7 linked regions of the Homo sapiens genome follow. The protein of the gene in region 1 purifies or fractionates together with the protein of each later gene. This does not show direct contact. Each region holds a gene or a part of one and is shown in the gene's direction. Other genes may lie near its edges. The genes, in order: MYO19, FLII, STON2, GART, BNIP3L, ARHGAP42 and FLNB.

Evidence for each region.
Region 2: the proteins of MYO19 (region 1) and FLII purify together in Homo sapiens (affinity purification with mass spectrometry; one large-scale study listed by BioGRID and IntAct). This does not show direct contact.
Region 3: the proteins of MYO19 (region 1) and STON2 purify together in Homo sapiens (affinity purification with mass spectrometry; one large-scale study listed by BioGRID and IntAct). This does not show direct contact.
Region 4: the proteins of MYO19 (region 1) and GART purify together in Homo sapiens (affinity purification with mass spectrometry; one large-scale study listed by BioGRID and IntAct). This does not show direct contact.
Region 5: the proteins of MYO19 (region 1) and BNIP3L purify together in Homo sapiens (affinity purification with mass spectrometry; one large-scale study listed by BioGRID and IntAct). This does not show direct contact.
Region 6: the proteins of MYO19 (region 1) and ARHGAP42 purify together in Homo sapiens (affinity purification with mass spectrometry, with the first as the bait; one large-scale study listed by BioGRID). This does not show direct contact.
Region 7: the proteins of MYO19 (region 1) and FLNB purify together in Homo sapiens (affinity purification with mass spectrometry; one large-scale study listed by BioGRID and IntAct). This does not show direct contact.

Annotation. Positions count from the first base shown.
Region 1 is NC_000017.11:36,507,369-36,510,868, reverse strand, and holds part of MYO19 (unconventional myosin-XIX), read left to right. Parts: coding exon 1-123; intron 124-1,733; coding exon 1,734-1,807; intron 1,808-2,944; coding exon 2,945-3,066; intron 3,067-3,356; coding exon 3,357-3,470; coding exon of another isoform or gene 3,471-3,478; intron 3,479-3,500. UniProt on the Homo sapiens protein: Actin-based motor molecule with ATPase activity that localizes to the mitochondrion outer membrane. Motor protein that moves towards the plus-end of actin filaments. Required for mitochondrial inheritance during mitosis.
Region 2 is NC_000017.11:18,252,239-18,255,738, reverse strand, and holds part of FLII (protein flightless-1 homolog), read left to right. Parts: intron 1-475; coding exon 476-556; intron 557-884; coding exon 885-970; intron 971-1,056; coding exon 1,057-1,218; intron 1,219-1,556; coding exon 1,557-1,660; intron 1,661-2,019; coding exon 2,020-2,195; intron 2,196-2,280; coding exon 2,281-2,438; intron 2,439-3,182; coding exon 3,183-3,267; intron 3,268-3,500. UniProt on the Homo sapiens protein: Is a regulator of actin polymerization, required for proper myofibril organization and regulation of the length of sarcomeric thin filaments. It also plays a role in the assembly of cardiomyocyte cell adhesion complexes.
Region 3 is NC_000014.9:81,390,325-81,393,824, reverse strand, and holds part of STON2 (stonin-2), read left to right. Parts: intron 1-3,500. UniProt on the Homo sapiens protein: Adapter protein involved in endocytic machinery. Involved in the synaptic vesicle recycling. May facilitate clathrin-coated vesicle uncoating.
Region 4 is NC_000021.9:33,507,618-33,511,117, reverse strand, and holds part of GART (trifunctional purine biosynthetic protein adenosine-3), read left to right. Parts: intron 1-1,197; coding exon 1,198-1,335; intron 1,336-3,500. UniProt on the Homo sapiens protein: Trifunctional enzyme that catalyzes three distinct reactions as part of the 'de novo' inosine monophosphate biosynthetic pathway.
Region 5 is NC_000008.11:26,407,054-26,410,340, forward strand, and holds part of BNIP3L (BCL2/adenovirus E1B 19 kDa protein-interacting protein 3-like), read left to right. Parts: intron 1-946; coding exon 947-1,050; intron 1,051-1,173; coding exon 1,174-1,323; intron 1,324-3,287.
Region 6 is NC_000011.10:100,959,788-100,963,287, forward strand, and holds part of ARHGAP42 (rho GTPase-activating protein 42), read left to right. Parts: intron 1-95; coding exon 96-158; intron 159-1,127; coding exon 1,128-1,202; intron 1,203-1,896; coding exon 1,897-1,981; intron 1,982-2,621; coding exon 2,622-2,680; intron 2,681-3,500. UniProt on the Homo sapiens protein: May influence blood pressure by functioning as a GTPase-activating protein for RHOA in vascular smooth muscle.
Region 7 is NC_000003.12:58,126,922-58,130,421, forward strand, and holds part of FLNB (filamin-B), read left to right. Parts: intron 1-3,500. UniProt on the Homo sapiens protein: Connects cell membrane constituents to the actin cytoskeleton. May promote orthogonal branching of actin filaments and links actin filaments to membrane glycoproteins. Anchors various transmembrane proteins to the actin cytoskeleton.

The DNA of each region.
Region 1 (3,500 bases):
GCTGGAGATGGTGCAGATTAGAACCATCAGGGCAGGCAGACAGCAGCAGGTGTTCCGGAAGCCCTGCGCCCGAGCCGAGTGTGACACCCGTAGAGACTGCCTGGCCAAACTGATCTATGCGCGGTGAGCAGTTACTCTGGCCCCTTGTTGGGGAGGACCCCGACAAGTGCTCTTCCTGTCCGGGGTTGGGCCAGACAACATCAGGCAATAGGCACAGGCCCAGGGTGGGAGATAAGACAGACTGGTTCCTCTCCCTGCTCCTCAAACCCCTGGACACATCAGGGCACAGCTCCCAGGTTTCACCAAGCAGCGTCTGTGGCCTCTTTCTGAGTGGGAAAGTTGCTACATTCCTGGCCAGAATTCAGCTCATTATTAAAGTTCAGGAGGCTGCTTTAGCCTCAGCAAGGTGAAGAGAACCTGCTCAGCTGTCTGCTGGCAAGGCAGGCCCCAAAGGTGATCTAGAGCCTTCGCAGTTCCTGCTTCAGATCCTTGGCTGAATGGGCCTCTCTGTCTCCCTGTGCCTTTGTACATCACCTAGGAGTTTGATAGATTGTGGTAAAGCCAGAGGCTCAGCCCACAGCATGTAGCACAGTGGTGAAGGTGGGGTCCTGGCCTTTTCTGGTAGATTACGTGGGTACCTCCACCCTCTGGCCATGTGGTTAAGGATGATCTCTCACCTTGAGTTCTGAGATTCTTCAGCAGGCCTTGTAAGGGCTTCAGGGGCCCAGAATCCTCTGAGATGAGCCAGAATGAGTGTATGTGTGTGCATGTGCACATGAGACCTTGGGCACCTTTCTGGGGAGAGGGTCCCCTGCTTTCATAAACTCCACAAAGAGCCAATAGCCTGAGAAGCTCTGCTGGGGGAACCAGATCGTCCGAGTTGAAAATGGTCCAGGGCAGCTGAGGCCAGACTAAATCCATTTCAGCAAGAGACTAGTTACCACTGCCTCAAGCTAATTTCAGGTCACAATTTGAGGTCAAAGGCTTTTAAAGCCTTTGCCTACAAGTCACTCCAAGATGAGCAGATAAAGTGTGATGAACACAGATAGAGTGAGCTTCTGACCACAGGACATTTGCACAGCCCCTGTTGCAAAAAGAGCCAGTTTATTTACTGAAGGGAAAAAAGTTGCAGAGCAATTACTTTAAGAAAAAATGTGAGGAAGAAACCCCTGTATAGTGCTGTACGTGTCAGCGTCTTGTGTGGTAGTCTCATCTTCTCTGGGCTGGGGCCGGTTCTAGAGTGGAGGATGCCATTGTTGACCTCGGGACTGGGGGCCCACTTGTGCAGAACTACATCAGGGGGTATGGTGGGGCCTTGAGCTCTGGGCTCCACCGGTAGAGTTTTGCAGGGGTGTTCAATGAACTCAGTTATTTACAAACCACACCCAGGCCCATCTGCCCCTTCCCAAGACACTAGCTGGGTCTCGAGCCATGTGACTGAGCTCGACTGATTCCCTCCCCAGCCTAGGAGCTGAGCTTGTCCTGTGCTCAGTCTTCCCATAAGGACATGCCAGGTTTGTGTGTACCTGGCAACATGCATGCCCATAGCCTGCATCTGTAGTAGGTCAAGACGTGATAGGCCGGAAGCAAGAGGAGAGGATTTGGTCTTTGACCTGTCAGGCTCAGAATACAAGGGCCCCCCAGGGTGTAGCACCCTGATGGGGGGAGCAATTTTACCACCCCTTTGACTCAGCCAGACCCTCTTACCAGAGTCCACTCTCTTCCCCCAACAGGTTGTTTGACTGGCTGGTATCAGTGATCAACAGCAGCATCTGTGCAGACACCGACTCGTGGACCACTTTCATAGGTAGCAAGGCCTCACTGTGCTGGGAGCACTCCAGAAAAAGAGCAATAAAGCCCTGGATGGAGAGGCAGGAGCCCTGGGTCCACTGTGTGACTCTGGGCAGTTCCTTTCCCTTTTTTGTCTCCTCTTGCATCTGCCTGCCAGCATAGAGCGAGATCTCTGCATAGGGTGAGATCTCTGCTCTCCTGCACCCACATCTGAGCAGTCCATAACTCTCCAGACAGGCTCAACAGTGCCTTGTCTGAAAGAGCCCTTTACCTCCCCAGAGACCCAGCTCTAATTGTGGGAGAGTAGTGGGGGTTGGGGAAAATAGCTGTATTAGAAGGGACTTTGGAGGCTGGCACCGTGGCTCACACCTGTAATCCCAACATTTTGGGAGGCCAAAGTGGGAGGATCACTGGAGGCCAGGAGTTGGAGACCAGCCTGGGCAATATAGCAAGACCCCATTTCAAAGAAATTAGCCAGGCATGGTGCTACATGCCTGTAGTCCCAGCTACTCAGGAGACCGAGGTGGGAGGATCACTTTAGCCCAAGAGTTTGAAGCTTCTGTGAGCTGTGATCACACCACTGCACTCCAGCCTGGTCAACAGAGCAAGACCCTATCTCAGGGGGGAGAACAAAAAAAGACTTGGGGGACATGACTGAGGGAGGTCAACACGGTTGTAACTAGGTGGGACAGTCAGTTATAGGAGGAAATAAAGCTTAAAGGTACAAGTGCAGTTTGCTCATGGAATGGTGGAATTCTAGGCACCAAATTGGCTAGTGAGACTAATGCCCTCCGAACTAGATTTAACACAGAAAATGTTCCCTGGGACCTGGTTTCCTCATAGGAGGTGCCTATCAGAACCAGAGAATTCAGACTCAAAAATGGGCCTGATGCTCTGGGCTGTCTTCACACTTCATTTGGGTTTCCTGCTTGCTCTGAGCTCTACAGGGGAATGGGGTAGAGATGGGAGCCACCTTGGGTGGAGGGTGGGGAAGGTATGTTCTGCCCACCACAGGTGTCATGCTCACTCAGCCTGATGCCCAGGCTGCCAAGTATAAGGCATTGGCAGGGGCCCAGCCACCCTGGGTTCCTTGGTCCCCTATTCCCCATCTGCTCCCTGCAGTGGCCCCATGGGTTCTCTGCCATCTTCCCAGGCCTGCTGGATGTGTATGGATTTGAATCATTTCCTGACAACAGTCTGGAACAGTTGTGCATCAACTACGCCAATGAGAAGCTGCAGCAGCATTTTGTGGCTCACTACCTAAGGGCCCAGCAGGTGAGGGATGGGGTGAGCAGGAGGCAGGTCCTTCTTTTGGATCCTCAATCCCTTCCTGACCTTCCAGCCCCAGTCCAGGTTCTGATTAGAAGCCTTTTGTTCCTTCTTATTTTATTTTTAATTGACAAATAATAATTGCACATATGGAGTACAATGTAATGTTTTGATATACTTTTGTTTCTTTGATGCTGTTCTGGAATACGCTGTGGTACCGAGGCCAGCCGTGGATGGCCCGTCAGGACATCAGACCACAGCTGCCTTCTCCCACCTCATCCCACCTTGTTCTTTAGGAGGAATACGCAGTTGAGGGCCTGGAGTGGTCATTCATCAACTACCAGGACAACCAGCCCTGTTTGGATCTCATTGAGGGAAGCCCCATCAGCATCTGCTCCCTCATAAATGAGGTGGGGAGGTCAGCTAATGAGCCGAGCACC
Region 2 (3,500 bases), about 18 Mb from region 1:
ACACCATTCTCTGGCCCTGTTCCCTCATGCTCAAGCTTTCTGCATGTCTGTAAGGTATGAGGAGGTGTCAGTCTTAAGTTAGGGAGAGAAAGCAGACTTCCTCTCCATCCAGATTCTGATTTCTCTGTGGTCCACTTCTCTCCCTCTGTTCTGAAAACCCTGACTCAGACCTTACCCCTATCTCACCTTCTGGAATTAAGAAGAAGAGAAATGGTTTGAACAGAAAAGGTTCCCTGAGGGCCCTGTGCTGGGGCTCCGGGGCACATTTGAGCTGGGCTTTGAGGCATGAATAGGAGCTCACTGGGAGGCTAGGAAGAGCGCTCCAGGAGAGGGAGCTATTTGATCAAAGGCCAGAGGTGAGAGAGTCCTCAGGCCTGGCCTCTGGTGAGCTGCCTGAGGAGGTGTCCCTCTCTAGACTCTGTTCCTTCCTGAGAGTGGAAGCCAGGAATTATAGACTCTTATGGTTTATTCCCAGGCCATCGTGGCCCGAGCCAACAGTCTGAAGAATTCCGGAGTCCCCGATGACATCTTCAAGCTAGATGATCTCTCAGTCCTGGTCAGTGGCTACCCACTCACCTGGCCCCTGTGCTAGCCGGACCATTCAATCCCCACTCACTATAAAAGTCCCTGGGGCCATTGTTATCCCATTTTGCAGATGGGAAAACTGAGTCTTGGAGTGGATAATACCTTGCCTGAGGTCACTTTTGGAGTCAGATCCCTAACACAGGCACTCTTCCTCCCAAGTCCCTGGCTGTCTCCCTTTGGCCCTGAAGCCCCCTCATCTACCCCCACACCCAACTCAGTGCCCTGCCTGATCCCCAAGCTTGGCAGACGCCTGGTGGGGAGGAGACTCCCCTGACCTGGGTCTTGCCCCTTCTACCCAGGACTTGAGCCACAACCAGCTGACAGAGTGCCCGCGGGAGCTGGAGAACGCCAAGAACATGCTGGTGCTGAACCTCAGCCACAACAGGTGCCAGGCCAGTGGGGGGCAGGGGGCAGGTGGGCCCTGTGGGGTGGCTGGTGCTGACTCAGGTGGCTCCTGCTCCCCACCCGTAGCATCGACACCATCCCCAACCAGCTCTTCATCAACCTCACTGACCTACTATACCTGGACCTCAGCGAGAACCGCCTGGAGAGCCTGCCCCCGCAGATGCGCCGCCTGGTGCACCTGCAGACGCTCGTGCTCAATGGAAACCCCCTGCTGCATGCACAGCTCCGGTGGGCGCCCCCTCGGACCGCACTCCTGCAGAAGCCACCCTGAGGAGTCTGGCCGGGCCCCTTCACTTCCCAGGGCCCTAACCCTTCTCCCTTAGGCCCAGCCATCCCTCCGTGCAGGCAGCACCCCTCAGTGTACAACCTCCTAAGTATCATGTCCACCTCTCAGTCCTGTCTTCCCGCTTACACACCCCGCAACCACCCTTGGGCTTGTCCCTTCAACCAGATGTGACCTCACACCTACCCTCTGGGCCCTGTGCTTTTGGTCCTGCCCTGCCAAGCCCCACCCTTAACACTCCCTAGGTGGGCCCTGGCCCTGACCACTCACGTCACCCTGGCAGGCAGCTCCCAGCGATGACGGCCCTGCAGACCCTGCACCTGCGGAGCACCCAGCGCACCCAGAGCAACCTGCCCACCAGCCTGGAGGGTCTGAGCAACCTCGCAGGTCAGGCAGCCCCAGGAGCCCCTCTGAGCTCGGGCCCCCTCTGGGCCCTCTTGCTTCCTTGGGTGGAAGGGGTTGAACCCTGCTCTTCGGACCAATACCCAGAGGGAAAAGGCTGGAGTTATGTTACAGTGACTTTTGCGATTATGATGATGCCTTAACACTGACTTTATGCCTAGAAAACTCCCCCGCAACCCCCATGTGAGGGAGTTTGTCCAAATGGAGAAACTTGGGCGCACAGCAGTTGTCACTTGCCTAAGCCACACAGCTCAGAGGTGGCAGAGCTGGGGTTCACACTAGGGCTGGCTGCCCTGGCACCTGGTGTATGGGCCCCAGCTGATGCACCCCACCCTGCACCCCAGACGTGGATCTGTCCTGCAATGACCTGACACGGGTGCCCGAGTGTCTGTACACCCTCCCCAGCCTGCGCCGCCTCAACCTCAGCAGCAACCAGATCACGGAGCTGTCCCTGTGCATAGACCAGTGGGTGCACGTGGAAACTCTGAACCTGTCCCGAAATCAGCTCACCTCACTGCCCGTGCGTCTGAGGCCCTCAGTAGGGGGATGGGAGGAAGGCCGTGAGCCTGGCCCTGACCTCCCACCCCTGCCCGTTCCCCCTCCAGTCAGCCATTTGCAAGCTGAGCAAGCTGAAGAAGCTGTACCTGAATTCCAACAAGCTGGACTTTGACGGGCTGCCCTCAGGCATTGGCAAGCTCACCAACCTGGAAGAGTTCATGGCTGCCAACAACAACCTGGAGCTGGTCCCTGAAAGTCTCTGCAGGTGCTGGGCAGGGCTGGGGCTAGCAGAGGCACTTGCAGCACAGAGAACCCCGGGATCGTAGTCAGAGCCCACCTTGTGGTCTGTGCAAGTCAGACAAAATGAAGATGGGTTAATTCACCTTTTCTTTTCTTTTCTTTTCTTTTTTGTTTTTGAGACAGAGTCTCGCTCTGTCGCCTGGGCTGGAATGTAGTGGTGCAATCTCGGCTGACTGCAGCCTCTGTCTCCCAGGTTCAAGCGAATCTCCTGCCTCAGCCTCCTGAGTAGCTGGGATTATAGGCGTGCGCTACCACGCCCGGCTCTTTTTGTATTTTTAGTAGAGATGGGGTCTCACCATGTTGGCCAGGCTGGTCTTGAATGCCTGTCCTCAAATGATCAGCCTCCCAAAGTGCTGGGATTACAGGTGTGAGCCACCACGCCCGGCCCAGTTAACTCACCTTTGTGGATGAAGACCACAGTCCCATGCCAGCCATTCCCAACTTGAGCCCCTGAGAGCACCCTTCGGGGGGCACTGTTAGGGACAAGGCCACATGACGTGGGAACGCAGTGTTGCTTCTCTCCCCTTCTGGAGATCACAGTGCCCGTAACATGGTCTCTTGGCTCTGAGAAGTCCTTCAGGCAGAGAATGGAGACCCCCGCCAGTTCCTCTGACCCTACCTGCCTCCCCTCCCCAGGACTAGGGGTTTTCTTGCCCACTTCCCCTTGTCTGTCACCTGCCTGAGGCCCTGGCTGGCCCTGTCTTCACAGGTGCCCAAAGCTGAGGAAACTTGTCCTGAACAAGAACCACCTGGTGACCCTCCCAGAAGCCATCCATTTCCTGACGGAGATCGAGGTCAGGCATGCTGGGTTTGAGAGGGCTCAAGAGAGACAAGCAAGGGGTGTGCCCTGGAGCAAGGGGGACCCAGCAGAGGCCTCCTGAGGGAGGTGGCCAGTGCCAGGGTGCCCGTGGGGAGAAGGTGGGCCCCACCTCCCTGCATCCAGAGTACATTCCACAGTCTCATTTAAGCCCCCAGCCAGCCCCAGAGGTGGGTGGGAGGAGAACCCAGTTCCCTGACCTCTCAGCCC
Region 3 (3,500 bases), on another chromosome or scaffold:
CCCTTACTGAACACCTAACACTGAGAAGGCTCTGGGCTAAGTGTTGATGCATGTAGGGAAAAGTTACGGAACACTGGGCAGTGAATGAGCACAGAAATAATGTTCCTTCTGCTTAATATGATACATTTACTGCATACTTATTGTCTCAGTTTCTGTGCTCAGTGCCTTAGCTACTTCATATCATGTACTCCTTACAACAATTGTATGAGGAAGGTATTAATATTAATCCATATTACACATGGTGGAGGAGACTCAGCCAGAAGTGGGCTTTGGGAATTCAACCAAGATTGTGTGCTAGGAAATGGCAGGAGAGCTTCCGCACCAGGCTGACCGGCCCCAAGGTCTTGGAGCAGCCTTCGGATGCCCTGTGCTCTCCTTCCGTTTGCCTCACTCTTCCTGCTGCTGCTGCTGCTGCTGCTCTAGTATCCTCTGCTCCCTCATTACCCAGGAGGCAGTGGGGGCAAGGAATGGAAGGTAAGTGATGGGTGGGGTGCTCTTTCTCCACTTTGCTGCCCTAAAATGGCCGTGCCTTCAGGTCATGGATTATATTCATGCCATTCAGATTCTTTCACATTTTATCTTTAGCCTCAAAGATTTCCTGATTGCTCAAAACTATTTATATGACAGTCAATTTGCTCAACTCTTCACTGATTTTTCCAAAACTAATTTTGAGATTAGTCATAATTATGTTGCCCCCATCTGACTGAGGATCTTATCTTGTGACTGACAATGCTTTTGATATATTGTGAAAGCTTTACCCTTTAAGGCAGCAATTCACAGTCTGGCCCATAGACCTTGCTGTCTCCTGAGACCCTTTCAAGGCGTCTTTGGGGTTAAAATCATTTTCATTCTAATTCTAAGATGTTATTTGCCTTTTCACTGCATTGACATTTGCATTGATGGTTAAAAAATAACAGCAGATGAAACTTTTGGCCATTGTCTACTCACAGTAAAACAAAATGTATATTTCACCCAATAATATCCTTGATGAGGCAGTAAAAATTATTAATTTCTTAAAATTGTGATTCTTGAGTATGTCTTTTTAACATTCTCTGTGACAGATTGGGAAAAAATACATGAAGCACTTTTGCTCCATATCAAATTGTAATAATTGTCTTGAAAAAAAAGTTTTTAAAAAAATATTTAAGAATTCAGTTTAAAAATTAAAGTTATTTTAAAATTATTTTTTAAAATCACATAATGCAAAAAATTCTTAATGAACAAAATATCAGTACTTTAAAGACAAGATTCAATTAACACTTTCATGACTATGCTACACTTGGCCCACCTGGACCTGGTGTTGCAGGAATTTTCCTAAAGTTCAGCTAAAGATGGGGTCCTTGTCCATCCCACAGCCATGAAAATTCAGGCTCACAGATGGTTTGAAGGGTAAGTAAAGCAGGGCTTTATTGGGTGAAAAGGAAAAAAGAGGGGAAACAGGGACTCTCAGCGAGGCCAGAGTTCATCTAGAGCACTTCCGGACCGCGCCCAAATCCCAGGTTCCACACAGGAAGAGGAGGGGCCAGGCTCTTCCCTGCTGCAAGTGGCACAAACTTCCGCAGCTCCACCCCAGTGCACAGGCCAGTTGGAGTTTTTCTGGGAACCCCCTCCCCTCTGGCTGTCTCACTGGTTCTAATAAAGCTTTATTTACAGAGATAGTCAACCTGTGAGCTGTAGTTTGCTGCTTTGATTTTGAGTTGATATTTTTAACATATTGCCTTAAAATGTTACTTTGATTACTGAGTTTTTTGGCACCCTCTTAAATTTTACCTCCAAGGCAAGTGTGTCACTTGCCTTAGCCTAATCTCAGCCCTGCATTGTCCTAAGAATTTTAGATGTATTAATATTACTAGAGAATAAATCAAGAAATGACAGTGTTCAAATGCATGAAAGCATAATTTTGAAAACTGCTCAAGTATGAATAATTCCATCTGTTCATATGTGTGAAAATTTAACTCAACCCTGTGGAGATGGAGTTTTCTACCTTAGGAGGGTCCTGTAGGATGGGTTCCCAGCAGACTTGATGCCCAGTCTGTAGGCAAGAAGCAGAAATAAACCATGTGGAGGGCCAGCCCCACCTCAAGAAGTGTTTCTAACCTGGAAACCCAAGGAGCATAGGGGACGGTGCACAGCATTAGAGTGGTAAAGAAAATGGTTCAATTCCAAATTTTCTGCCAATACCCAACTTGACCCATCAATGAACCTAAACTGAATCAAAAGCTGCAGAGTACATTCCTATTACCCAAACTAACCTCTCCCACATAAGCTAATTCCCTCTTGGGTTTCCTCCCATGGATTGTGTTTAACAATAAGGATAGAGTAATTGGCAGAGCTAAGGCCAATTACACAGGAGAGACTAGGCGTTAGCCCCCCACTCCTGCCCCCACATAATGGATAATGTAGACATTCCCCAAGTTACACAGTCATTCCATTCAGGAGGCTGTTGTGCAGCTCAGATTTTAATTTGAATCCAAAATGTTTGAATGCATGTGCTGTATATTGCAATAATACCACATATGTAACTGCAGGCATTATGCAGAAATAACACAGATGTTTGCAGCAAGTAGAGACAGTGTGAGACTTGCTGCAATCACTGCTACCTGCTCTGTTCTTCCAGTAATACTAAGCTGAGTAATGGCTCCCAAAGACATTAGGTTGTCCTCCCTGGAACCTATAAATATTATCATATTTGGGAAAAGGGTCTTTGTAGATGAGAGTAAGGATTTTGAGATGGGGAGATAATTCTGGATTATCTGTGGGCCTTAACTGCAATCACATGCATCCTTATGAAAGTGGCAGAGGGCGATTTTGCTTACACAGAAGAGAAGGCACTGTGAAGATGAAACAGAAAGAAATTTGAAAATGCTGATCTTAAAGATTTTAGTGATGAAGCCACAGCCAAGGAATGCCGGCAGCCACCAGAAGCTGCAAGATACAAGAAACAGATGCTTCCTTAAAGCCTCTGCGGGGAGTGCAGTTCTGCTGACATCTTGATTTTAGCACAGTGATTCTCATCTCAGACTCTGGCTTCCAGAACTGTGAGAGAATAAATTACTGTTGTTTTGAGATACCAAGTTTGTGGTAATTTGTTACAGCAGCCATAGGAAACTAATGTACTAAGTCTGTAAAATCTTAAAATGGAACCCTTTGCATAAGGCTGAGAATGAGTCAGTCTGAATTAGGGGAGCATCTGTAAATCTGTAATGATGCAGGACTTTTTGTTTGTTTGTTTGTTTGTTTGTTTTTTGTTTTGTTTTTTGAGACGGAGTCTCGCTCTGTTGCCCAGGCTCTGGAGTGCAGTGGCGCGATCCCAGCTCACGATGCAGGGTATTTCTTAAGGAGATGTGTGCATGTCAGTGTGCTTTGTCCCTAAACCTTACAGCTCCTTATAATTTACTCATTGAGTCACCAGATATTTACTAAGCACTTCCTCTGTATAGTTCTGCTAGGTGTGGATATTCAAAGACATAGCGCAGTGCTCAGAATTGAGCAGAAATCCA
Region 4 (3,500 bases), on another chromosome or scaffold:
TAACATGACAGCACCCACCCCAGCGATACCACGTATCTCTTCATTTCTGCCTCAGAACTAAGCATTCATGCATGCACAGCCACACCCCACAGGATCGCTTCCCAAAGTAATCTCCCTACACACAAGACCTCATGGCTCTGCTGTCACTCAGCTCGATTCAAGGAATAGCGAGCAAGCACCCTGACAAGTACTGTATCAGTCAGGACTCTGCGAGAAGTGCTAGAACTTGGCAGAGGGGCAGAAAATCCACTCAGATTCACTAACAAAGACGTCACATGCTTGCTTTGGCAGGACACATACTAAAATTGGAACGATACAGAGAAGATTCACAAAAATAAAAAATAGAAAAAAAAAATGTCAGACCTTGTTGACTTTACCTGTATCTGCCTTTCTTTCCTCTATTGTGTAGGATTCATTTTCAAGCGGGTTCTCCAAATGCCGGAAAGATAACATCCTTCAGCTCACATTACAATAAGAAAGAGAGACCCAGCCGGGCGTGGTGGCTCACGCCTGTAATCCCAGCACTTTGGGAGGCCGAAGCGGGTGGATCACGAGGTCAGGAGATCAAGACCATCCTGGCTAACTCAGTGAAACCCCGTCTCTACTAATAAATACAAAACATTAGCCGGGCGTGGTGGCGGGCGCCTGTAGTCCCAGCTACTCGGGAGGCTGAGGCAGGAGAATGGCGTGAACCTAGGAGGCGGAACTTGCAGTGAGCCGAGATCGCGCCACTGCACTCCAGCCTGGGCAACAGAGCGAGACTCCATCTCAAAAAGAAAAAAAAGAGAGACCCTCTTTTTCTTAACATCGCATATCAAGCCTTTAAATGGCTTTGCTAGGTCACATGCTTATCCCCGAGACCAGGAGATCATGGCACTACTGTGGGTGGTCTCGCTAGGAAGATTTGGGGAGTAGGGGCAGAATACTGGCAGGCAGTCATATATATCCACCGTGCACTTCAAGATAGTGATGTGATCTGCAGCTTTTAGTTGAAGTAATTACATATGTTCACCTTTTGGAAGTTTTTATGAAAGAGTAGTGTTAAGTGATACAAATGTGTTGTTCATTTTAGTCCTTGCATTATCTTATTTTCAGGATAAAACATACCCTAAAGTTTTCATAAAATATTTTTCTTTCCATTATTCTTGTTAATTCACAATTGTTCTTTACTTATTTATGGATATGTTTGAAATGAAGGTTCCCCACGTGTGAAAGTCAAGAATCTGATTGAAAGCATGCAAATAAATGGGTCAGTGTTGAAGAATGGCTCCCTGACAAATCATTTCTCTTTTGAAAAAAAAAAGGCCAGAGTGGCTGTCTTAATATCTGGAACAGGTGAGATGTGGCTTCCCCTTCACTGTAGAGCTGTTGACTGCCCTTCCTTTCCTCCCCGCACTCTTGTGAGATTGTAAGGTTACTCTCGGCAGAGTCTAGGGACTGGGGGGAATCATGAGGGTTGTCTTTGTCTTTTCAGCATTCTTAGTCTTTCCACTTTTCTTAGGAATTTGAGACAGCTCCCAAAGAAAAAAGTAAAGGATGTCAGAAAGCTGGTTAAAGAGAAACCAGAAAAGATAGAAGCTACAGCTCATTTTGTATCATAGCTTTGTTGTTGAAAAGTCTGAAAACAGTTGAGGAATTTTTATTGTTATCTTATTAATTAGAAGAAGTTTATGTTTAACCTTTATGGATAGAGGGGTAAAGTAATAAGAGTATTGTATTCTCTCAGATGGATGTAGCCTGATTTTTTTCCCTCTATTGTAAGTAACACTGCTATGAACATTCTTGCAAATATTCAGTATGTTCTTAAATGCATATGTGATTTTTTTTTATTTGATGGCCAAGATCATAGTGATTCTTTTTGAGACAGTCTTGCTATGTTGCCCAGGCTAGAGTACAGTAGCTATTCACAGATGCAGTCATAGTACACTGCAGCTTCCAGCTCTGGCCTCAAGCAATCCTTCCGCCTTATTAGCCCCCCGAGTAGCTGGGACTGCAGGCATGCAGCACCACAACCAGCTCTGATACTTCTTCAGGATTCATTCCCAGAAGTTTAATTGCTTTACAGGTCGATCTTAAGGTTTTAATGTACTTTAGGCCCAAGTTGATAATAAAGCAAAGAAGCTATTGTAAGATGCAGCCATAAAAAAGAATAAAACCACATCATTTGCAGCAATATGGATGGAACTGGAGGCCATTATCCTGAGTGAACTGCCTCAGAAACAGAAAACCAGATATTGCATGTTCTCACTTATGAGTGGGAGCTAAACAGTGGGTACATGTGGACATAAAGATGGAAACAATAGGGCCGGGTGCTGTGGCTCACGCCTGTAATCCTAGCACTTTGGGAGGCTGAGGCGGGCGGATCACAAGGTCAAGAGATCGAGACCATCCTGGCCAACATGGTGAAACCCTGTCTCCACTAAAAATACAAAAATTAGCTGGGCATGGTGGCACACGTCTGTAGTCCAGCTACTCTGGAGGCTGAGACAGGAGAATTGCTTGAACCCTGGAGACAGAGGTTGCAATGAGCTGAGATTGCACCACTGTACTCCAGCCTGGAGACAGAGCAAGACTCCATCTCAAAAAAAAAAAAAAAAAAAAAGATGGAAACAATAGATACAAAACAGGGAAGTGTGGGAGAAGAGGTGAGGGTTGAAAATTTTTCTATCAGGTATAATGTTCACTATGTAGGTAATAGGTACACTAGAAGCCCAGTCCCCACCATTATACAACATTCCCATGTAATAAACAAGCGTGTGTACCCCCGAATCTAAAATTTTTTTTTTTTAAAGAAACTATTGTAAGAGTCATAGCATAGTGGTTTGTTCTTGAGAGGGTCAGTTTTTCTTGCTTAATTAAGCAGCTTATTTCTCATCAGTCAGTTTTAACATAATGTTATACTGTTTCTACTACAATGCTAGATCACAAGATACAGAATTTGTGGGAGCAATTACATATCCTAGGAGCAATTACATATCCTAAACCACGTCGTTTGCAGCAATATGGATGGAACTGGAGGCTATCCAGGAATATCTGTGCTTTTCACAATCTATTAATCCATTATCCCAAGAGGAAGGGAGTTTTTTTAATTTTTAATTTGTATGGGTACATGGTAGGTATATATATTTATAGGGTACATGAGATCTTTTGATACAGCCATACAACCTGTAATAATCACATCCCTGTAAATGGGGTATTCATCACCTCAAGCATTTATTCTTTGTGTTACAAACAATCCAGTTATTTTATTTCAGTTTTTTTTTGTTTTGTTTTTGTTTTTGTTTTTGAGATAGAGTCTCACTCTGTCGCCCAGGCTGGAGTGCAGTGGCGCAGACTCGGCTCACTGCAAACTCCGCCTCCCAGTTTCAAGTGATTCTTCTGTCTCAGCCTCCTGAGTAGCTGGGATTACAGGCACCTGCCACTATGCCTGGCTAATTTTTTGTATTTTTAGTAGAGATGGGGTTTCATCATGTTGGCCAGGCTGGTCAGGCTGGTCTTGA
Region 5 (3,287 bases), on another chromosome or scaffold:
TGGATCTCGGCTCCACCTCCCAGGCTCAAGCAACCTCCACCTCCCAGGCTCAAGCGATTCTTCTGCCTCAGCCTCTCAAGTAGCTGGGATTACAGGTGCCCGCCACCATGCCCGGCTAATTTTTTTTTGTTTTGTTTTGTTTTGTTTTTTGAGGCGGAGTCTCGCTCTTTCCCCCAGGCAGGAGTGTAGTGGCGCGATCTCTGCTCACTGCAAGCTCCGCCTCCTGGGTTCACGCCATTCTCCTGCCTCAGCCTCCCGAGTAGCTGGGACTACAGGTGCCCGCCATCACGCCCAGCTAATTTTTTTGTATTTTTAGTAGACACAGGGTTTCACTGTGTTAGCCAGGATGGTCTCGATCTCCTGACCTTGTGATCCGCTCACCTCGGCCTCCCAAAGTGCTGGGATTACAGGCGTGAGCCACCGCACCCAGCGTGTAAGTTTTGTGTTTTTTTTTAGTAAAGACGGGGTTTTACCATGTTGGCCAGGCTGGTCTCCAGCTTCTGACCTCAAGTGATCCGCCTGCCTCAGCCTCCCAAAGTGCTGGGATTATAGGCATGAGCCACTGCACCCGGCCTAATTACGAAAATTTTAAGTGCATACAAGAGAGAATAATATAATGGACCTCCATGTAAGTATTGCCCAGATTTAACTCTTATCGAGGTTTTTCATACTTCCCTTAGCATTACATCCCAAAGTACAGTCTTATGCAGTTCCTGTGCTGTGCTTAGATATCCCAACAGTGAAGCTCACTCAGGTTGTTCTGAAGATATTACATACTCTGATCTTACATTATTTTTCAGCATTTTTTAGAAAAGCAACATGTTTGTTATCTAAAATTTCTGAGACACAACCTTATGAGTTTGGTATCTTTTCTGTCTAGATTTTTCTTTGTATTAGGAGGAATTGGTCTTCCTTTTTTTCTTAAAGTTTGAATTCTTCTTTACAGTCAGAAGAAGAAGTTGTAGAAGGAGAGAAGGAAGTCGAGGCTTTGAAGAAAAGTGCGGACTGGGTATCAGACTGGTCCAGTAGACCCGAAAACATTCCACCCAAGTGAGTTCTCACATGTTTCTTGTCAGTGGACACAGTTGATCTGCGCACGCTTACAGGCAATGGGCCTGGTAATCCCCACGATATTTTCAGCAAATGACATCTGCCTCTGAATTTCTTTCTCAGGGAGTTCCACTTCAGACACCCTAAACGTTCTGTGTCTTTAAGCATGAGGAAAAGTGGAGCCATGAAGAAAGGGGGTATTTTCTCCGCAGAATTTCTGAAGGTGTTCATTCCATCTCTCTTCCTTTCTCATGTTTTGGCTTTGGGGCTAGGGTAAGTACCGGTCAACTCCTGAAGTTTTTTCCATTCATTTTATCCTCTTATTTTCAGATTGAAGAAATGTATGTGAAAGCAGTTTTTATTGCTTTACTTTCAATGTTTTAGTGCAAATAAGGTGAACTTAAAAAAGTGGGTGCACAATTGTTCTACAAATAAGCATTTTTAATAATAGTAGAGTGTGTTTTCTTATTTGAAAATAAGATGTTTGGCCTGGTGTGGTGGCTCATGCCAGTAATCCCAGCACTTTGGGAGGCCAAGATGGGTGGATGACCTGAGGCCAGGAGTTCAAGACCAGCCTGGCCAACATGGTGAAACCCGGTCTCTACTAAAAATACAAAAATTAGCTGGCCATGGTGGTACATGCCTGTGGTCCCAGCTACTTGGGAGGCTGAGGCAGGAGAATCGCTTGAACATGGGAGGCGGAAATTGCAGTGAGCCGAGATCATGCCACTGCACTCCAGCCTGGGGGATAGAGTGAGACTCCATCTCGGAAAAAAAAAAAAAAAAAAGAAGATGTTCATAATAATCCCCTAAATGATCAAATGTAAGCGGACTCCTCTGTGATTGATTTTTCTTTTTGGGTTTTGTTGTGTAATATTTAATCTTGAGTAATTTATGAACTAAACTAATCTTTAGCATGTACATTTTGTGGTCAGTGCAAATACCTTTTTTTCATATGGGAAAATACATGATTACATTGAATAGTTTTTTTTAATGAAACTGGTAGGTTGATTGGTGCTAATTTTTTCCTTTTTTAACTTTGTAGTATTTTCATTTATTTTGCTAAAATCAACCTCATATTTACGTGTAATTCATTAGTTTCTTAGCCACATCTTTTAAATAAATTGCTTTTTTTCCTTGATTTAAACAATTGAGGAATTACACTTCTGAAAGATTTTAGGAGTTAAACAGTAGCTGTTAATTTTTTTCAAGACGTATGTTGTGCTCTAAGCATGCCCAGTGGGTCATTTTCAGTATAAGATATGCAGAAGATGGGGTCATCCTTTTTCTTCCCTTTAAGGAGCTCAGCATATTGGAGAGAGATTCTTAGTCACGACCTCAGAAACTTGCATACAGCTTTCCACACACCCGTCTTGTCTCTCTTGGGTGCTTGATCTGCTTTTGTGAGGGCAAGGACAGTAATCAACAAACAGCAACCTAGAAGGGGTTTGTGCAGAAGGGGACTGTGTGACTGTTGCGTGGGGGTTGATGTGGGGCAGGTGTAGGAGTTTAATACATTGCTGCCTATACAGCAGTTCATTGCCCTTAAGCGATTGGTGTCTATACCTTGCCGTCTCTCTTTCAGTCATCTTCAGATTGTTTGTCTTGGCTGTAAGTATAACTATTGCTATAGATGAATGTAAAAAGAGTGTTTAAAAAGTTCGTTGCTTTAATTGCACTGGAGGTGAAGCTAGTTACATACTTTCCTTAACTTCCCTTCTGCTTTTGCTGTTGAAGAGGCCAAATACTTTCTTGGCATGAAAAAGTATTATAAGGCCCCTAATCCTTAGGAGTTATTAGTAAGAGCTGTCTTTAAAGCACTGGCAGCTTTTAAGGTTTTTTTTTTCTTTTGTCCTACATAGAGCACCAGAATAATTTCACATATTACTATATTTTTGTGTCTGAAATGTCAGTAGAACCTTCTGTCCACCAAAGAGGAACATCTTGAAGGAGTTGGGCTGCTTTATTTACTCTGTGGAGGGATCTGTTCTCTCTGGCTTTACTTTGTCTAATCACTACCCCTTTGCTGTCGAGCCCCGATATTTAATGAGTAAACAAACTCATATAAAACCAGTTTGGCCGGGCTGGTGACTGGTTTTAAGAAAGTCAGTGATGATTTCACGGTGTTTGGGGAGCGGTACCCACAAACCTTTAGAGCCTTTTACAAAGACTGAAGAGTTTTAAGTAGAGTTCAACCTGTGGACAAGCTGGTATAGAACTGTTGAAACAGGTGAAAC
Region 6 (3,500 bases), on another chromosome or scaffold:
ACTGTTGAGTCATAAAGGCCCAGTGAACAGAGCCAACTGAAGGGGGAATGTGAGTTCAGCGTAAACACCTAATGCGATTTCTCTCTTATTTTCAGTGTATTTGAATGAAGCAGGGTTCAACTTTGTGAGAAAATGCATTCAAGCTGTGGAAACAAGAGGTCAGTGTTGCCTGATTGGTACAGCATCCCTGTCATGTGTCTCATTCTTACATGGAAAACTCTCAGAGTAGATAAATCATTGAAGATGTATTTGGTCATTAACATGGATTAATTTTAAGAGTAATATAAATGTATGTATCGGTATACAAATAGCTATACCTTGAGCTTCAGTTTACTAAAAATCATGCTTTAGGCATACTTCTTTTTTAGATTTTTTTCTAATACAGCCTCACTATACTTCTTATTGAGAAGCCCTGCATTATTTATTACTGCAAGCACCTCTTTGATTTTTTTTTTTCCAAGCATTAAGGAGGTAAGATTCTTAAGGAGCTTGTCTTCACTCCCTTCCTTCCTTATAGTCTTTCTTTTACTGATTTGTCACTGCCACAGTTTTGGTACCTTTCTTCGTTTTAATCATGACCTCTGTCTTGAAGTCCACTCCAGTTAAACTTTAAACTCACTTCTAGGAAAATTTGGCTAAAGCAAAATTCATATTGGGTTTTGGAGTTCCATAAACTTATATTTAAATTTTAAGTGCTGCCACTTCAACATTCTGAGAAGTAGTTTCCTTGAATTCTCTGAATCTGTTTCCTCATCTCTAAAATGAAGATATAAATGCCATAGGACTTTTCAACATGCAGGAGGACTCCATGACTCTGAAGAAATAGAATATGAGTAATATCGATCATCCCTTCCCATCTCCATTGCTTTTTTATATTCAAATAATGGTGAATAGGCAGCTACACTTTGCTACTTTGAAGATCTTCAAAGACTTTCAAATCACTGTTCAGTGTCTGCTCTGAGAAATAGAAGTCTGATGGGTATTTCCAGGATAGCTTTGCTAAAGTTAGACTGTGAAATTGGATAAGTAGCTTTCAAATTTTGTTAGGCATATGTCTGAGTTTTTAACATTCTGTACTTGCCAAGCTGTATCTCAAGCCGTTTTCTTGTGATTTTCCTTCCTATTAGGTATCACCATTTTAGGACTCTACCGAATAGGAGGAGTGAACTCCAAAGTTCAAAAACTCATGAATACCACATTTTGTAAGTTTTGGATGAAGCAACTTACATAATTTTTGTGTTCTTATAGGTAATCTAAAGTATGGACTTCTTTGACTAGTGCTTGTCTTTGAATATTTTCAAATAATATTTAAAGTTCATATATGTATTCAGTTTTTAATGTTCATTTATAATAGATGAACGATGAGAATTTGAGGGGGCATTTTTATAATACTGTATTTTTTTTCCCCAAGTGTCCTTTGGTAAGCTAGAGATACAATAAGATGCATGGATGCTAGCTGGAGTCATTTGGAATCCTAGCTCAGCCACTTACAGGTTTTGTGACCTTGAGTAATTTGCTTAACGTCTTTGTGTCTCAGCCTCCTCATTTATAAAAATAGGGATAATAATGGTACCTGCCTCTTAAGAGTTGTGAGGATTGACTATGTTAATCTCCGTAAAGCACTTAGAAGCATGCTAGGCACATGGTAAGTGCTCTGTCATGTTAACAATTAGCAATAATTTCATTTGGGAGACTTATTTCATAAGATATATCTTTGAGGTTTAGTGTCAGCTTTTTATCAATTCACGCAAACAACAGTACTAATGTTAACTCTTGGCATTCTAAGAAATGAATACCTCTCTCTTTTGACCTACTTACGTTTGTGCCCATTTTTCATAATTGCATAAGAAATATTTTGAACTGCACAATTTAAACACCTTGTTTTATTCTTTCCAGCTCCTAAATCCCCTCCTGATATTGATATTGATATTGAACTGTGGGACAATAAGACGATAACAAGTGGGCTGAAAAACTACCTCAGGTGAGGAGGGTTTAACTCCTGGTACTCTGGATGTAATCTCTGACTCACCCCTTGAGTAGTAACCACGTGATTTCTTGGAGCCTGTGTCCAGAAGCTTCACTCAGTAGCTCAGTTCCCTTACATAAGGTGAAATAGCATGACATGGTAACATTTACATTTAGTGTTCTGGAACTTGTACTTGATTTTTTCAATAATAATTTAAAAGGCTATATAATATTTTGAGTACTGAATTAGTATTTGTTGTCCCATATGTATATGGGATTTTTATGTACTTTTTTAAATAACAAATTGGAATGGAAAGTTGTGTTGTTTTTGTTTTGTTTTTTAACTATTGTTCCCATATTTGTTCCTCTGGTAAGGTAATTCTGATATTGGGAGACTCCCAGTCTCCCCTCTTAATACAGTCATGGAAAGAAGTACATTGGTGTCTTCGAGGTCTGCGTTTCAGGTCTCTCTGTGGCCCCACTACTGGAACTTTATCATACTGCCAAATCACCCAATTCTTTTATTTACTTATTTATGTGTTATTTTATTTTTAATTGATGAATAACAGTCACCTAATTCTTAAAGAAACACTTAACGTTTAGGGGAGAATAAAAGATTCTACTATTCTAACATGTGTTTCCTTTCTCTGTTGTAGGTGCCTTGCAGAACCACTGATGACTTACAAGTTGCACAAAGATTTTATCATTGCTGTTAGTAAGTATACTTGCATCATATACACATTATAATTGATGTAGTTTTATGCTGCCATACTTAGGCATATATTACTAGTATCAGCTAGTGAAGATTTTTTTCAAGTATTGCTTAAAAAGTTGTTAATCTGGGCCGGGTGCGGTGGCTCAAACCTGTAATTCCAGCACTTTGGGAGGCCAAGGCTGGCGGATCACCTGAGGTCGGGAGTTCGAGACCAGCCTGACCAACATGGAGAAACCCTGTCTCTACTAAAAATACAAAATTAGCTGGGCATGGTGGCACATGCCTGTAATCCCAGCTGCTCGGGAAGCTGAGGCAGGAGGATCACTTGAACCCAGGAGGCGGAGGTTATGGTGAGTCGAGATCGCGCCATTGCACTCCAGCCTGGGCAACAAGAGCGAAACTCCATCTCAAATTAAAAAAAAGAAAAAAGTTGTTAATCTGATATTTAGTAATTTATAATGTGTTTTAGAAGCCAATAAGAAATTGCAGAATTAACTGAAATATTTTGACACTTAGTGAGACCTCATTGGGTAAGTGTGGTGATTATAAAGAACCATGAGGAATTATTATTCTAATTTCATTTTATTTGAATGACAAATACCAGTTTCTTTTAAGAGCAACTAAGCAGGACTCTAAATACGTACAGACGATTATGTCCCTGCACATGCTCATGTGCTGTATTCCTCAATCTGGAGATGAGTCAAATATTTTTGGCAGACAGCAGGTGCTTCCATCAATCCCCTCTCCCTCATATTTTATTTGCAATGATCACATTTATGTCATTTGTTTAGATCTGTGATTGCCGTCATATGATATGAAT
Region 7 (3,500 bases), on another chromosome or scaffold:
TCCCAGTAGAACCGGTAACATGGCAAAAAGCATCGGCTTAGAATTTTGACTGGAAACAGTTGTGCGTGTGTTGGAGGACCTAGTTCTTGATTCAGGGGAAAGCTGGTTCTTTACAAAGTTGAAAATCACAGTGGCTCACACCTGTAATCCCCAAACTTTGGGAGGCCAAGGCATGCAGATTGCTTCAGGTCAGGAGTTTGAGACCAGCCCAGGCAACATGGGGAATCCCCATCTTTACAAGAAATACAAAACTTAGCTGAGTGTGATGGTGCGTGCCTGTAATCCTAGCTATGTGGGGTGGGGGCTGTGATGGGACGATGTCTGAGATGGGAGCCTGGGAGGTTGAGTGAGCTGAGATTGCGCCACTGCGCTCCAGCTTGGGTGACAGAGGAAGACCCTGTCTCAAAAAAAAAAAAAAAGAAAAAGAAAGAAAATTTCTACCTTATTTTGTGCTTGGCTCCTTATTCATGTGTCTTGGTTTCTTTTTTTTCACTGACAATACTAGTAGCTGATCAAGATATGCAGATTCAAATTCTTTCTTTTGTATTTAGTGATGTCATGTGTAATCACTGTGAAACACGGTTTCTCAACTCCGGCACTATGACACTTTGGGCTAGATGATTCTTTGTGGTGTGGGGCTGTCCTGTTCATTGTAGACTTTTGTCAGCATCCCTGCCCTGTACCTGCTAGATGCCCATAGCAGACTTCTCCTTCCCCATTCTTATTTGTGGCAACCAAAAATGTCTCCATATCTTGCCAGATGTCTTAAGGGACAAAATCACTTCAGCCTGAACCACTGCTGTAAAGATTCAAACAATAAATAAATATATGACTTAAGTAGTGAAAGACCCTCCTCCATTTGTTTTGGGGGGAGGACTCTCCATAGGTTCTAGTTATCTACTCAAATGATTGTCACCCCCACACATTTTATTTATTTATTTCAATAGCTTTGGGGTACAAGTCGTTTGTGGTTACATGGATGAATTCTATAGTGGTGAATTCTGAGACCACCTCCCCCGCCCCCATTTCTAAAAGGGCAGGCAAGTGTGTGGTGTGGACAGAAGACCGAGGGCTGGGGCTGTTCTGGGCCACTTATGCCTTGTCTTAGGTGTGGTGTGAAGAGGGCAAAGCCCCACCCCAGGACCCCAGGAGCAGAAAGAGCCTCAGCGGGGTCTTGTTCTTCTTTCTCTGGGTCACGCTGAGAGGGGAAGGGCAGGTTGAGGGGCCCACTGCTGGGTTCTGGGTTAACTCTCAGGCAGCTGGAGTGTCCACTGACCACACGCTTTCCTGATTCCATTCCTGCTTCCCCCTTACCACATGGAAATGTGCACACACACTCACACTCACTCTCTCTCACACTGATCAGAAAGTATTGACATTCAACTCAGACTGATTCTACTCAGATACTCATTTAAGCCTCAAGTCATTTAAAACAACATGTTTCTCCTCAAACTTGTGCTTGCGGCTCATTCAATATAGATTTAAAAAATTCCTATAATCACTAGTCTAGGGGACTTCAGCTGTGGGCAAGACAAAGTTCCTGCCCTCAGGGAGCTTACTGTCTAGGGCTTTTACAACTAAAACTTGTGATGACTGCTATGAAGAATGAGAATGGGGCTCGGTGACAGAATTCAGAGCTACGGGCTTGTTTTGGAGTTTTGTAACACTTGCGTTAGGAGAGAGTTGGGCACAGGAAACGGGTAGAAGGCTGCTCCCAGGAGGGGTGATGTGGCTCCGACCTGGCAGGCAACAGTGGAGATGAACATCTCCTGTGGCAATGAAACTTTTTGACTATGGGGAAAGGCTGGTGAGTGCCACCAGCTTCCGAATCCCCCTTACAGAAAGGGGTCAGAGTTTGTCCCCTGTGGCCGACCTGTGAGCTTAAAGCAAATGGTCGTCTTTGAGCATAACAACAGAAAGACACTCATTTGTGGTTTTCCCATCAGGTGTGGATGGTGCCTTTTTATGTTTCAGGCTCTCTGTTGCCTCCCAGAGAGCCAAATGCCGGCTTTTCCAGAACCCCAGAACTTTCCCAGGCAGAGATATTTAGTGAAGTGTTGGTTGGTTTTCTAAGCATCAGGCTTCTTAGCTAAGGCAACCTATGGGGGTACTGCCGGGAAACAGTCGGCTACCTGCCACCTTCTAATTTGCTTTCATGGTAATTCTGGGTGCTTAAATATTAGCCTAGTTTTTCCTGGCCTGGTTAAAAACCCGGAGTGGAGTTATTTTTAACAACGTGTCCTGTCTTACCCGTAATGGCATGTTGATTTCCTGTGGTAGGCCAGCTGTGGTTGGTTGGTGGCGGCTCCCTAGACCACTGGATTGACTGGGGTTCAGAGTGCATGAGGAAGAAGATCTGGCATGAGGGAATGGTGACATGTGTCTGGGCATGGAACAGGGGAGTGGCGGATAATGCTTGGGGTCTGCCATCTTGGACAGTTTATCTTACCCGGGTTTGTTGGTTTTTGGCTACTCTCATGCTGAGCTCAGACAACTTCTAGTGGAGGCTCTGACTTAAAGATTGGCCTCAGAGGTAGTCCCTTGCCATCAGCTGTTGACATTGAAATCCTCAACTGTCACTCTCTAAAGTAAAGCCCCCTTTTGTTCCTCTCACCCCAGTGTGGAGGCCTGTGCTTGTTTGCCAGGGCCAGCCATTTATTTCACGTAGCTAAAGACCTGGATGCCGTTGAAACCCAGCTGTTGTTAGAAAGCCAGGGACTCAATTCTTTGTGTGTCTTGGCTGTCTACCATCTCTAATTCTACAAAGTATAAATTCTCTGGGATGCAAAGCAGAGATCCCTCAGCTTTCACGGCAGTCATTAACTTTGCCAGATACCATGGGGAGCACCAGGACTCCCATGCGAGGCAGAGGTGCACGTAGCCCCTTGGTGATGGGCGTGGTAGCCTGAGGCATGCTGCCGTTCGCTGGATGGGGAGGTCCCCCTCCACAGTGGAGTCCATGAGTGTCCTTGGCCTAGCCCTTGTTTCTCTGTTTAGCACTTCTCTAGCAAATCACTATCTCCTCTCCTCGACTCCTCTGTGCTTCATCTTTAAAACTGACACCCTCAAGGAGTCAGAGGCCCTCAGGGTCCCCCGGGGGGTCAGCCATGTAGCAGGAGCTCAGCTTACACTCAGGAAGACGGCAAGGCTTCACCAGGTGGCCGAGTGACCGAGAAGGCTGAGTGTGGTCAGAAGGTGCCAGCTGCATTGGAGGGAGAGGAGTCTGGGGGACACACAGGAGCCATGTGTGGGGGACAGGGCTGGATGTGGGCTGCAGGGCCTGCCCATCTCTCTCCGTTCTGTTGTTCCACCACTTGGCTTCCTCCTTCAGTTGCTCCAGCAGCCTGTCTCCTCCCTCGCCTCTAGGCTCCTGCATGTGCTGAGGCCTCTCTACTTGAAGCACCTCTCTGTCTGCTCCCTCTTGTGCCGCAACTGAGATGTTACTGGAAAGCTTTCTCTGGTCTCCCGCAGACCAGGTTAATTGCCTCCTGAGTGCTCCA